3 separate regions of the Homo sapiens genome follow, and all the other regions are linked to region 1. The links come from fine-mapping of genetic effects on gene expression. A gene starts in region 1. Each other region holds a variant in brackets. All regions are shown on one strand. Distances are from middle to middle. Region 1 holds the start of WSB2 (WD repeat and SOCS box containing 2). Region 2 overlaps KSR2 (kinase suppressor of ras 2). Region 3 overlaps RFC5 (replication factor C subunit 5).

Region 1 (4,224 bases):
CGGAGCCTCCATCACCCAGGCTGGTGTGCAATGGCAAGATCTCAGCTCACTGCAACCTCCACCTCCTGGGTTCAAGTGATTCTCCTGCCTCAGTCTCCCGAGTAGCCGGGTTTACAGGTGCCCGCCACCACACCCAGCTAATTTTTGTATTTTTAGTAGAGATTGGGTTTGGCCATATCGGCCAGGCTGGTCTCGAACTCCTGACCTCAGGTGATCTGCCCGCCTTGGCCTCCCAAAGTGCTGGGATTACAGGCATGAGCCATCGCGCCCCGCGACCTTACCCTTTTATTCTTTTCCATGACGTGTACATAAAAACGAGGCCTGTAAGACTCCAGGAATCGAAGGAATTTGGGAGACAAAAAATGGAGACTCAGAAAATTAGAGAAGAGAAAAATGGGAGGGGGGAGCCTGGACAATAAAACGGGGGTCCTCAGGAGGCAGGAAATTAGCGATTAAATGGGAGCAGAGGTGGAGGAGGCCGACACTGGTGCCAGAGATAAAAGTGGAGTCCCAAAAAAAGGGGTGCGCTGGGCCGTTTTTAAAATTGGGAAACATAAAAAATACCCAGTGGAAAATGAAGAGAGAGAACGGGGCATGCTAAAGTTAACATGGGCGGCGAGAAAGGGACAGGTAGCCAGCGGAAAAGGGGGAGACTGAGAAACCGGCAGGTTCAAAGAAAAGAAAAAAAAAAACCGGCCAAGCGGGGTGAACAGGAGTGTAACCCAGGAGGCCAAACGGGACACAGGAAGGACGTACCCAGGGCTCATAAAACAGGGGCCTGGGTAAAAAAACCCGAAACATTAAAACGGAGAGACCATGGTGAAAAAGAACACGGGAACCTCAGTTACCGTAGAAAACATAGGTTGCGTTAGGAAGCAAAGAAATTTAAAATGGAACCACTGCGATCCGGAGCTCTGGGACCAGTGACCGGCAAATGGAGAGGGCACTTGGAGGGAAGCGAAGAAAGGCGGGGAGAAAGGAATGAGAGGCGGGAGAGTGACTTGAATGAAGCTGACACCAAGAACCGCGGGAAGAGCTTGGGCCCAAAGCAGGAAAGGGAAGCGCTCGAGTTGGGGGTAAGGGGAGGCATTTTGGGGACAATGAGCTGAGCTCAGTAAGAAATCCCCAAGCCACTGATACTACTGGGGACCGGACAACTAAGAAATGGGGTCTTTCAGGCATGAAAAGCCTCCATGATGACTCCTGCCCTGGCCCTGGAATGTTAAAAAGGGGGCGTCTGACCCAAGCGAGCCATTTCTTGAGGCTATGCGGGTAGACAGGGAGAGCAGGTTTCTCAGGGGGACGGGGACAGGCGAGGCTGTCGCCGTAGGTAGGTAAGGGGACAGTCTTCTTCCGAATCGCTCCTGCCCCGTTTTTTATCTCGTTCCCACCCCCACTCCGGTTTTCACCCTGCCCTCCTCTCCCCACCGCCCCGTGTTCTCCTCACTTCCCTCTCCCATTACCGGAGCCATTGAGTAGCCCCCCTTGTTTTACCCTAGCCTTGACCCTCGCCGCACCCCCCAATTCTTACGTCCTCCCCAGCACCCGGTTATTACACCTTCCTTCCACCCCCTCCCCATTTTCCCCTAAGCCCAGCTCTCCCCAGGTTTCTTCTCGGCCAGTATTCCCTCCAACCTATTTCTCCCGCCCCCATTTTTACCCGTTTCCCCCCTCATCGGCCTTCGCATGGCTCCATTTTCACCTGCCCCTCCCCTCGATTTCGCTTCAGCCCCTTTGGTTCCCCTTACCCCCACAGCCCTCGGTCTCCCTCTCTCCGTTCTCCCCGGATCGCCGCTTCCCCTGCTTGGTTTTTCTCTCAGCCCGGCTCTACCACTCTCCAACACCCCCTTTTCCCCTGAGCCCGGCTTCCCCTACTCCGGTTTCTATCGCTCCCCTTTTCCCGGTTTCCCTCAGCTCTGTTCACCTCCCTCCCTTCCCCGTTTTTATCCGGCGCTGGTTCCCCTCAGGACCCCGCACAACCCCTGGGTTTTATCCCGTTCGCGCCCCACCCCGTTTCCGCTCAGCTCCCCCCACCCCTGCCCCATTTTTATCTGGTTCGCGCGTCTTCCCCGCCCCCGTTTCCCCTGAGCAACCCCTCAGCTTTTATCCCGTCAGCGTACCGCCTCCCCGATTTTCCATCTTTTCCCTCAGCTGCCCCCCACCGTTTTTATCCCGTCCGCACCCCCCCTCCGTTTCCCCTGCGCCCCGCCCCCGCGCGTCTCCGCCCGCGCCCACCGCCATGTGACGGGAAGCAGCTGATGGCCTCTCCGGGCGGCGGCGGCGGCCTGGCCGGGGCGGGCGGCGCGGGGGCGGCATGAGGGCCCGCGGCCCGGGGGGCTGAGGCGCCCGCCGCCTGCCGCGGGGGCCGCTCGCGTCCTCCATGGAGGCCGGAGGTGAGTGGGGCCGGGCGCGCCCGTTCCCGCCCGGCGGGGCCCTGGCCCGTTCTCCCCGGGGAGGGGGGAGGCGACCCCGGGGCGGGCTGGGCGGGGTGGGGCGGGGGCTGGACGCGGCGGGGGCGTCCGGCCTGGGAGGTCCGCGCGGGGCCGGCGGGGGTGCGCGCCCGGCGACCAGCTTTGTTTCACTTTCGTTGTCAGTGGCCGCCACCCTGACTCCCGCCGGCGACAGGATCGGGAAGATCGGGCTTCTGCGGGAGGAGATCCCCCGACCGGGACAGAGGGGGCTCCCGGGTGGGACTCGGGGCGGGGGGCACCAAGCCCTAAAACGGAGATCCCCAAGGGGGTGGGTGCCCCTGGGTACCCAGGTGCCAGGGGACGCACTTGCATGTCTGGATGGGAGTCACCTCTGTCCCTCACAAGCTGTGTGATCGTGACAGTGGACAAGCCACTGAACCACCGCCACCCACGTCTCAGTTTTGATCTGCAAAATGGGATAATCCTAGTACCTTCCTCGGAGGGTGGCTGGGACCCGGTAAAAATGGGGTCTGGGGTCTGGGTTCCCTATTGAAACAATCTATTCCCAGCCTCTCCCACTGGAGATTAAGTCAGTGGAGGTGGGGCGGGACTGGAGACGCTGATCCCTGGTGACATGTATGATCAGGCAAATTTAGGATACACTGATGGGTGGGGACCTTGCCTCTATTCTTGTTAACTGCCATCCCCATCAGAAGACAGCGTGGAAGTCAGAGGATATTGGATATACCTCAAGCCAGCCCAGATGAACATAAAATCTCAGTGGGAAAGGTGTGTCTCTTATGCAAGGGGAAAAAAACCCCAAGACGCATGCACGCCTTGGCCCTCTCCCCTCCAACGACCTTCCCTCGGAACCCCACTTGGGATAGATTTAGAATTGATTCCGGGAGTCCCAGGTCTTGAAGGACCCGAGTTTAAATGTAATTTCCTTAGGAGAAATTTTCAGAGCAGGTTCAAGGCCTAGGGCTCAGAATTTGTTCCAGAACTTCATGGTAATCTTGCAGCCAAGTTCAAGCTTCATCCTGGTCTGGAGGGTTCTGATTGCTGATGGCTTGTTACTGTGGGTGGGAAGGTTGAAATCTGGGTATTCCCTGGGGTGGTGTTACTTTTTAATTTAGGAAATGACATTTCTTTGTTTGCTGAAGTCAGGCATTGAGTTAAAGGCAGCTCTCTCTCCTTCCCATCTAGATAAGGGCTTTCTTTTCAGTGAGTGTTACCCGTAGAATTCTTTTTAAAAGGGCCCCTACTGTTTGTGTAGATCCTATGTGAATCTTTTTATAGCTTCCGTTTGATTTCCATTGCCTCCTTACAGTTCAATCTGAAAGCAATCTGTAGCTAGCCTGCCTTTTTAACAGAAATCTGTTTCCAGTTCTGGGGTTTTCCTAAAGATTGACAACTTCGTTTTGAGGGTGTGGGCAGGGTTGTTGAGAGCTGCCAAGTTACTGTACAAAAAAGGCCAGAGTTTTAACTTATTTTCAAATGGAATAAAGCCCATTGTAAAGGAAATACAATGGGCAACAGTTGAAATCTTCAGAGCAATGGTTAGACTTCACTTATTCATTCAGCAAATATTTGTTGAACGTCTACTATGTGCCAGGCACCCTCTAGGCCAGCCCCGACCAACAGAAGTCTAATGTGAGCCACGTATGTAATTTAAAATGTTCAAGTAGCCACATTAAAAAAAAGAAAAAAGAACTAGGTGACAATTTAAAAACTCTTTCAATACAACATGTCTAAAATATTCCTGCTACATGTAATCAAATAAATTGTAATGTAATGTTTTAGATTTTTTTTT
Region 2 (4,224 bases), 170 kb after region 1:
ACCGCACCCAGCCATAAGAAGACATTTCTAATAAAGGGGTTATTGTCTAGTAATTTGAACTAGAGGACTAAAAATTTGGGAATTTCACTTATGTTTTTTTGTCCCCTACTGCCTTTATTCTGCCATTGACCTCTTATGTGACCTTTGAATGATTTAATTTTTCTGAAGGGAGGGATGACAGTGATGAACCATGTAGCAAGGTGACCCCATGGTAATTCCTCATCAGCAAGGGAATCCAGCAGCCCTTCTCGGGAGAATATGGGATGTTGCAATATTCCACTCTGAGACTTCTTTTTCCCTTCTGCTGGAACACAAGTCTCCTGACTCCCAGTCTAATGTTATTTCCATTACACCATCCAAGTGTGATGCAAGATATGGCAGAGAGATGTCCCACGGTGCATCTAAGTGGGAAGAAAAAATTTCTAGCTTATGGGTATATAAACAATGCAAGAAATGGATCAAATGCAATCAAATGCAATCAAATGGATCTGCCAAATGCATAGGTCTTCCCATTAAGTAAATTGGGCATGGAAGCATGGACAAATATGGTTCTTCTATGAAAAGTTCTTAGAACCTGCAAAAGGCTTTAACACAGAGAGGACCTTTAAATAGTGAGCTTATTTAAAAAGACTAGACTTCTAAGCAGTGTTTTCGGGAGAGCACTACTGTAGAATTCTAAGGTTGTTCCCTTTACTCTGGAGCTCAGAAGCTCCATTTGTTGAGGATGGTAAATGTCAGAGAAGATTCACACCAAAGGTACTATCTGGTGCTCTGTGGACATGTGGCTGGGCTCTAAAGCCTGTGGACACCCCTAGAGGCTGGAGATTGTACTGATCTTGGTATGAAGATCAAACTAGTTACTAGCTTATGGGACCCAGTGTGACTTGGGTGACTTTAGGTAACACTTCTCTTCCTTCAGAGCCTTAGATCTCAAAGACATAAGATAGGAAGAACAGTACCATTGTCTCAAGACCTTTTCGAGGATGATCCAATACAGTGCTGTTCAAAATGCGGTCCCTGGACCAGCAGCATCAGCATCACCTGGGAACTTGTTAGAAACGCAAAGTTGGATGGTTCCCCAGACCTACTGAGTCAGCAGCTGTGGCAGGGAGTAGGGGTTGGGGGGATTCTAGCAATCTGTGTTTTCACAAGCCCTCCAAGGCTTTCTAATGCATGCTCAAGTTTGAGGACTCTTAGAGTAGGAGAGGGTGTTTCAACCTTGGCACTACTGATATTCGGGGGTGAATACCTCCCTGTTGTGGGATCTGTCCTGTGTATTGAAAGATGTTGAAGAGCAATTCTGGTCTCTACCCACTAGATTTTAGTAACAGCTCCCCATCTTCCAAGTTGTGACAACCAAAATATTTATAGACATTGCCAAAGTCCCCTGGAGGACAAAATCACTTACAGTTGAGAACTCCTGGTCCAGGATAAAGCAAGTTCCTGACATTTGGCAAGCTCTGAATGAAGTGTTAACTTCCCTTGTTTTCTTCTGCAGTCTATCCATCTGAATTGAAGGGGAGGGTGGAAGAAAGCAAGATACAAATGTTTTTTACCTTTTTGACTGTGCTGACACTATGGCCCCACGTCTCGTTATTTAAAAATAGTCACACTCTTTCAACTTTCTAACAAAATTTTCCTTTGGGTTGAAACTAAACATGGAAAATCTCAGCCCTGGGACCTGTGTTAATTT[T/C]CCCCCAAGAGCTAAGAGGCTGCGAGTGAGGATTGTTGATGGAAAGTTTGAGGTCTCTGTAACTGCAGAGCTTGCTGCTGTGATGTGGGGGCACGAGTTCCCTCCACTTCACCTTGGCTTCCCCTCCCATGAGAGTTTCACAGCTGGTCCCCTCCACACCCGGCTGCTCGCCCTGCTAATAATAACCACAAGAGATCTGATTTCCGTTGCTGGTGAACTGCCTCTCATGCTTGGATTTTCCTTCTACATGTGGCCTGAGTTGGGAGAGGCATCTGAGCTGCGGAAGGGGCACACCGTCCTTGGAGTTAGGTGACCTGGGTTCCAATTCTACCTCCACCCATAACTTGCATGGAAGATGCTGGGTGCATCATTCAAGTGCCTGATTGCACTTTGGTTTCCATACCTGTAAGACAGACACTATAAGACCTGTGGGAGCATTCATTTTTAAATATTGTGGTAAATTATACGTAACATAATGTTTACCATTTTAATCATTTTTGAGTTTACAGTTCAGTGGCATTAAGTGCATTCATATTGTTGTGTAACCATCACCACTATCCATCTCAAACTTTTTCATCACCCCAAAATGAAATTCACTAACTCCCTGACTTAGTCAACTTGGGCTGCCGTAACAAAATACCATAGACTGGATGGCTTAAGCAATAGAAATAAAATCTAAATTTATTTTCCCATATATAGAAAAAAATGGAAATTTACTTCTTACCGTTCTGGAGGCTGGGAAGTTCAAGACCAGGTTGTCAGCATGGTCAGGTTCCAGGTTCTGGTGAGGGCTCTATTCTTGGCTTGCAGACGGCCACCTTCTTTCTGTGTCCTCACATGGTGGAGAGAAAGTTCTGGTTTCTTCCTGTTCCTAGAAGGACACTGATCCCATCATGGAGGCTTCACCCTCAGGTCTTCATCTAAAGCTAATCACTCCCTAGGCCCCCATCTCCAAATACCATCAAACTGGGAGTTAGGGATTCAATATATGGCTTTTGGGGACACACATTCAGAACACTCCCCATCACTCCCACTCCTAATCTCTTGTGTACTTTCTGTTGTGAATTTGGCAATTCTGGGCACCTCATGTAGGTGGAGTCATAGAGTATTTGTCCTTTTGGAGAGCATACTTTTGATATATGGTGGAACATTTATTTGTATATTTGAATACAAATATACAAATTTGTGTTTGTGTCTTTGAATATTCCCAGAAGCATTGTCCAGGGTTGAATCTGGCCTCCAAGAGAATGGTTGAAAGTGCCCTACGTAAAAACTGAAGATCAAATATCTAAATGAAAACTGAAGAATGCTGGTAGTTTGATGGTTATTCTCAAAAGGGTTTTGGGGCTGGAGAAAAGGCTACACTTGGAAATATTGTTACGAAGCATTAAGCCCTTCTTCAGGTAGGCACTGGGTGTGGAAGACACTCTGTTTGCCTATCCAAAGTCATCCTTGCTTCCTGAATCCAGTTTTGTTCTTGCTCATCTGAGCAGCCTGCTCTTGAGACAATGTCGCTCATGACTGGTCTAGGCCAGTGACGTTCCCTTTGCAATCACTGGTTGATCATAGCCATGTGGCTGCCCACTCCTGGCCAGTGGGATATGAGGGGTGGCCAGTGGAGGAGAGTTTTTTAAAATTTTTTTTTATTTTTATTTTTTAATGCATGAAAGGAAACATTGGTGAGAATGGTCATTCTTCTGCTGATGCCCACATGGAAATGCCACAGCCATCTCAACCCTACCAGGGCCCTTGATACTGCTGATGAGCCACTGAGTGAAGCAACCCTGGCAGCCACCATGCTGCTGGATTATTGCTGTGTAACTAAACAATTCCTTTGTTGAAGCCACTTTGGGGAGGGTTTTTAGTTCCCTAACACAGAACCTCCTGTTGAAACACTGGATTCTCAGGACTGGTCAAGGGCCTGTTCTGCTCCACGTGGTTCCACCAGGCCTGGGTATGCTGGATTTGACCTAGTTGGGTTTGCATGTAAACTTCACCTGAACCTCTCCCTCCTGGCCTGATTCTTAGTCTCTTGATGGAAAGGAAGTCAAGGGGCCAGGTGCCGTCACTCGTGCCTGTAATCCCAGCACTTGGGAGGCCAAGGCAGGAGGGTTGCTTGAGCCCAGGAGTTTAAGACCAGCCTGGGCAACATAGCAAGACCTTGTCTCTACAAAACAAAATGAAACAAAACAAAACAAAAACCGAAAAAGAAGAAAAGAAAAAAAAATCCGGCTGGGCATGATGACTCAGGCCTGTAATCTCAGTACTTTGGGAGGCTGAAGTAGAAGGATCACTTGAGCCCAGGAGTTCGAGACCAGCCTAGGCAACAGAGCAAGACTCCATCTCTACTAAAAATAAAAAATTTAGCCCGGTGTGGCAATGAGCGCCCGTAGTCCCAACTACTGGGGAGGCTGAAGTGGGAGAATCACTTGAGCCCAGGAGGTCGAGGCTGCAGCGAGCCATAATCACACCACTGCATTCCAGCCTTGGTGATAGAGTAAGACTCTGTCTCAAAAAAATATAACAATGAA
Region 3 (4,224 bases), 33 kb after region 1:
ACAAACAAAAAACAAAAATTAGCTGGGCATGGTAGTGCATGCCTGTAATCCCAGCTCCTCAGGAGGCTGAGGCAGGTGAATCGCTTGAACCTGGGAGGCAGAGGTTGCAGTGAGCCGAGACTGCATCACTGCACTCCAGCCTGGGCGACAGAGTGGGACTCTGTCTCAAAAAAAGAAATAAATTATTAGGTGTCAACAGCGGTGTTCTGAACTTAACTTTGTCCTAACTATACAGATATACAAAATTTATGTAATGAAGGATTATTTCGTCGGCAAAATACGTTAAGAGGGAAACAAAACAGAGATTTCCTTCCTCTTAAGCCATTTCATCGGGAAGTTTGGCTGATACATTGGTGGGTCTGTGGTCTAGTCAGTAAAGCAGGACACTGGAGTTCATCTCGCCACCTTTTAAATGCCCAGCCACTGATAGCAAAATCATCATATTCACAATGCAATGAGGAGAGGTGACCTAATTTGTGCCTGTGAAAGCCAATGCCACAAATTAGAGTTGGCCTATGCTGACGTCTATGTTGAACCCAATGCTCTGTCTACTTAAATGATAGCTGCCAGCTTCACTGGGGGCTAATAACAGTGTTTACGGAACCAGGCAAAGCAGAAAATTGAGTTTGTGTTTACTTTTCCCCCCAATATGCTTTAGTATGCCAAAATGCCTTAATAACAGCTGGGTGGTTGAAGCAAAGCAGGCCTCCCAAATAACAAGGGCATTTTCAGAATCAATGTGGGCCGAGCCTGTGAGGTCCAAGGAGAGGCCTTCATCTCAGATATGTAACTGATCTGTACTTGACCTGTGAATTTATCCCCATGTTCTTTAAGCAGCTCACACCCTTCCCCACATTCCATTCAATATCACCAGACTAGATTGTACCGTATGTGAACGATTTAGGAAAAAAACCTGAAACCAAGAAAGTTGAAACAAATAACTCACAACAGGGGAAAAAAGGAAGAAAAGAATTAAAACTGGGGCAAGAAGTACTCACTCAATGTCTGCCATTTTGGTCAATAAATGTATTCGAACTGAAGATGGAAAGTCAACTGAGGGAAAAACAAAATCAAATGAGTTAGGTCACTCTCTACTGTCAAAAAACCCACAGAGGACAAATGAGTTTCAACATGAAATCCTTAACACTGAACTAGTCCTGAGGCCTCAGCCTGCTCACTAGATACCAGACCTCTAAGAAAGTAGAAACAGTGCTGGTTTCATACTTTTTACCCACTCGATTTTGTGCTTTATAGGGTAGACAAAAAGGAAAATGAGCAGATACCAAAGTGATCCTAAGAGCACCAAAGATCACACTGCTCTTAGCAGCTGGGTAGCTCTACAAGTTAACTTGAATGCTGAGTTCCCACTTGCTGTTTTTATTTTATATTTTACTTTATTTTGAGACGGGGTCTCACTGTCTTGCCCAGGCTGGAGTGCCATGGCATGGCGTGATCATGACTCACTGCAGCCTTGACCTCTTGGGCTTGAGGGATCTTCCACCTCAAGACCCTTGAGTAACTGGGGCTACAGGTGTGCGCCACCTTGCCTGGCTGTTTTGTACTTTTTGTAGAGATGCGGTTTCACCGTGTTGCCCAGGCTGGTCTCAAACTCCTGGGCTCAAGTGATCCACCCATTTTGACTTCCCAAAGTGTTGGGATTACAGGCGTCAGCCACTATACCGATCCTGTCCCCATTTAAAAACCAAGCACAAACAACTGATTTTTTAAAGTTGGTTTATGCTCAGCTTCCACAATCAAGGTGCAGAGCTGGGCCTGAGCCAACCATACCTTGGGCAGAAGGCATGGCATGGGCCAGCCAGGAAGAGGCCTGTGAAGGCCTGGGCAGAACCAACATTCATTGACCCGGTTAAGTCTCCATCTTGCAGTTGGCCACTGTGGAAGGAAGAGCTTCTCCGAAAGCCTACACAAGTCACCTGGGGAGCTTAGAGAATACGGATGCCTGGTTGTCCTCCGAGAAGCTGACTTAATTTGTCTGGAGTGCCCCTATCTGCTGCCAAGGTTGAGAACCAATTCTCTGTGTAGAAGGTACAGGCAAGTGTGGAACTTAAGATGTTTTCCTTAAGCCTGCTTTGGTTTACATGGTTTACATATCTTCTCTTTCTTTTCTGGGAATATATATCTAGATAGA[C/T]AGATAGATAGACAGACTTTTTTTTTTTTTTTAGAAATGTGAATTAATATATACTACTTACTGCTATAAAATATAAACCCCTAGAGGAAATAAAGTTAGCCTCCAGGAGTTTTCACTTTCCCCAGCAGTTCTAGATATTAAAAGAGGGTTTATGGAACACGTTTTTTGTGTTTTGTTTTGTTTTTTTTTTTGAGACAAACTCTAGCTCTGTCGCCCAGGCTGGAGTGCAGTGGCAAATCTTGGCTCACTGCAACCTCCACCTCCCAGGTTCAAATGATTCTCCCACCTCAGCCTCCCACGTAGCTGGGATTACAGGCGTGCGCCACCATGCCAGGCTAATTTTTTGTATTTTTAGTAGAGACGGGGTTTCACCATGTTGCCCAGGCTGGTCTTCAACTCCTGACCTCAGGTGATCTGCCTGCTTTGGCCTCCCAAAGTGCTAGGATTACAGGCTTGAGCCACCGTACCCAGCTCTGGAACAAAATTTTAAACAGTGGCAAGACAGAACTGCTAACAAGAAGGGTCTGATTTACAATTCATTAGTTTCTTTGCTTCAAGAATGAAGCCTCCTGTCCTAACCATCCTTAACCCCAAAGCAGGCTACCTTCTCCACAGCTTCTCAGCTGGGGGATAATGTAAGTTACCTCTATGCACAAACAAGTGTATCTCTGTCAGGATATCATGCAGTGCCAACCCCTTCAGAGTTTTCAACTCTGTAATATCTAGAGGAGCAGTTAAGGCAAAGGGAACAAGTTCCAGAACAAACATACTGCAGAGAATTTTGAATCCAAACCCGGGCAAGAGACTTTTTAAAGTAAGGCTTTTAATCCCAACACAACTGTTTCTCTTTCAACTTGAAGCTGCACGTGTTGGACTCCAATTCTTTATTTTTCTTTGTTTCATCTTCAGTAAGGGCTTTCTGAAAGATAGAGTTGTAACTCCTTCTAGTAGAGAATAAAGCCAACTGCGTTTTCTTTTTCTTTCTTTCTTTTTTTTTTTTTTTAAGATGGAATCTCCCTCTGTCACCCAGGCTAGAGTACAGTGGCATGACCTCGGCTCACTGCAACCTCTGCCTCCCGGGTTCAAGCAATTCTCATGCCTCAGCCTCCCGAGTAGCTGGAACTACAGGCACCCACCACCACGCCCGGCTAATTTTTGTATTTTTAGTAGAGACGGGGTTTCGCCATGTTGGCCAGGCTGGTCTTGAACTCCTGACCTCAAGTGATCTACCGCCTCAGCCTCCAAAAGTGCTGGGATTATAGGCATGAGCCACCACACCCAGCCCCAAATGCATTTCCAAAAAGGCTTTGTGTCACCATTCCTAGCCTTTCATTTCACAGCACAAGAGCTATCACTATCATGACCACTTGAAAATTCCTGCATCTTCAATGCCAAGGCCTAAGCTTTTCTCCCATCTGTGAGTGAAGCTGCTTCAAGCCTTACCCTGACTTGAAGGTCAGAGCCCTCCAAGAAGAACTCTGGAGTGCTAAAGACAAGTACCCACTCCACCTACAGACATCTCACTCCCACAACAAGCTGACCAGAGTCGCCTGCAGCCAGTCATCCTTTGCCAGCAAGGTGTGGGTGCTGGCTGCAACCTGAACTCCTGGGGCCACCTTCAGGTCTCGGTGGCCAGGAGGTCATGAGAAAGGATACTTCTGTAGGCTGTGGTGAAATCTTGATTCAACATCCAGTCCAGGATGTTGGCAATGTCTGACTTGAGCGGGTGCCCGGTGCAGGTGTAGACAGTCTCCTCTGTCACCTTCCCAAAGGCCATATTGGTGCTCTGTGTAGACAGAGGGGGAAAGGGGAGATCACAGTGGCTGTCACAGCTGCCACCAAGCTGCAGGGAGCCAAGAAGAAATTGCCAAGGCAGCAATGCAGGTGAGCAGCAAAGTTCTATGGGCACAAGGCAGTGGGAACCCACATATTCAATACCGGAAGAGTCACCTCATCAGAGGATGCCACAGCCTGTTGGCTATTCCAGTGCCAAATCCTTCCCTCCCTTTGCCTTCTTTGCAACAAATGATTCCTTTTGTTTTTAAAACATTTTCTTTTGCTCTCTCTTTGTTTTT

What was found. PIP is the estimated chance that this variant, and not a neighbour inherited with it, causes the effect. A credible set is the group of variants that fine-mapping cannot tell apart.
Region 2: its variant is the best candidate, but not a certain one, in a credible set for the expression of WSB2 in tibial artery (GTEx, PIP 0.50).
Region 3: its variant is the best candidate, but not a certain one, in a credible set for the expression of WSB2 in whole blood (INTERVAL, PIP 0.81).

Annotation. Positions count from the first base shown.
Region 1 is chr12:118,059,205-118,063,428 of GRCh38, reverse strand. It overlaps WSB2 (WD repeat and SOCS box containing 2), which reads left to right and starts at 2,250. Exons shown (of 9, transcript NM_018639.5): 1 at 2,250-2,393. The coding sequence starts at 2,381. LOC124903030 (a long non-coding RNA gene) reads right to left here and starts at 1,969. Exons shown (of 2, transcript XR_007063479.1): 1 at 1,749-1,969. RefSeq lists a silencer at 2,791-2,840.
Region 2 is chr12:117,886,923-117,891,146 of GRCh38, reverse strand. All of the region lies in intron 1 of KSR2 (kinase suppressor of ras 2), which reads left to right. Among named protein-coding and RNA genes, the nearest start is that of KSR2, 80 kb to the left of the region's middle. The variant T/C (reference allele first, on the strand shown) is at 1,694.
Region 3 is chr12:118,026,600-118,030,823 of GRCh38, reverse strand. RFC5 (replication factor C subunit 5) reads right to left here. Exons shown (of 11, transcript NM_007370.7): 8 at 3,806-3,935; 9 at 2,794-2,871; 10 at 999-1,053. Among named protein-coding and RNA genes, the nearest start is that of RFC5, 12 kb to the right of the region's middle. The variant C/T (reference allele first, on the strand shown) is at 2,150.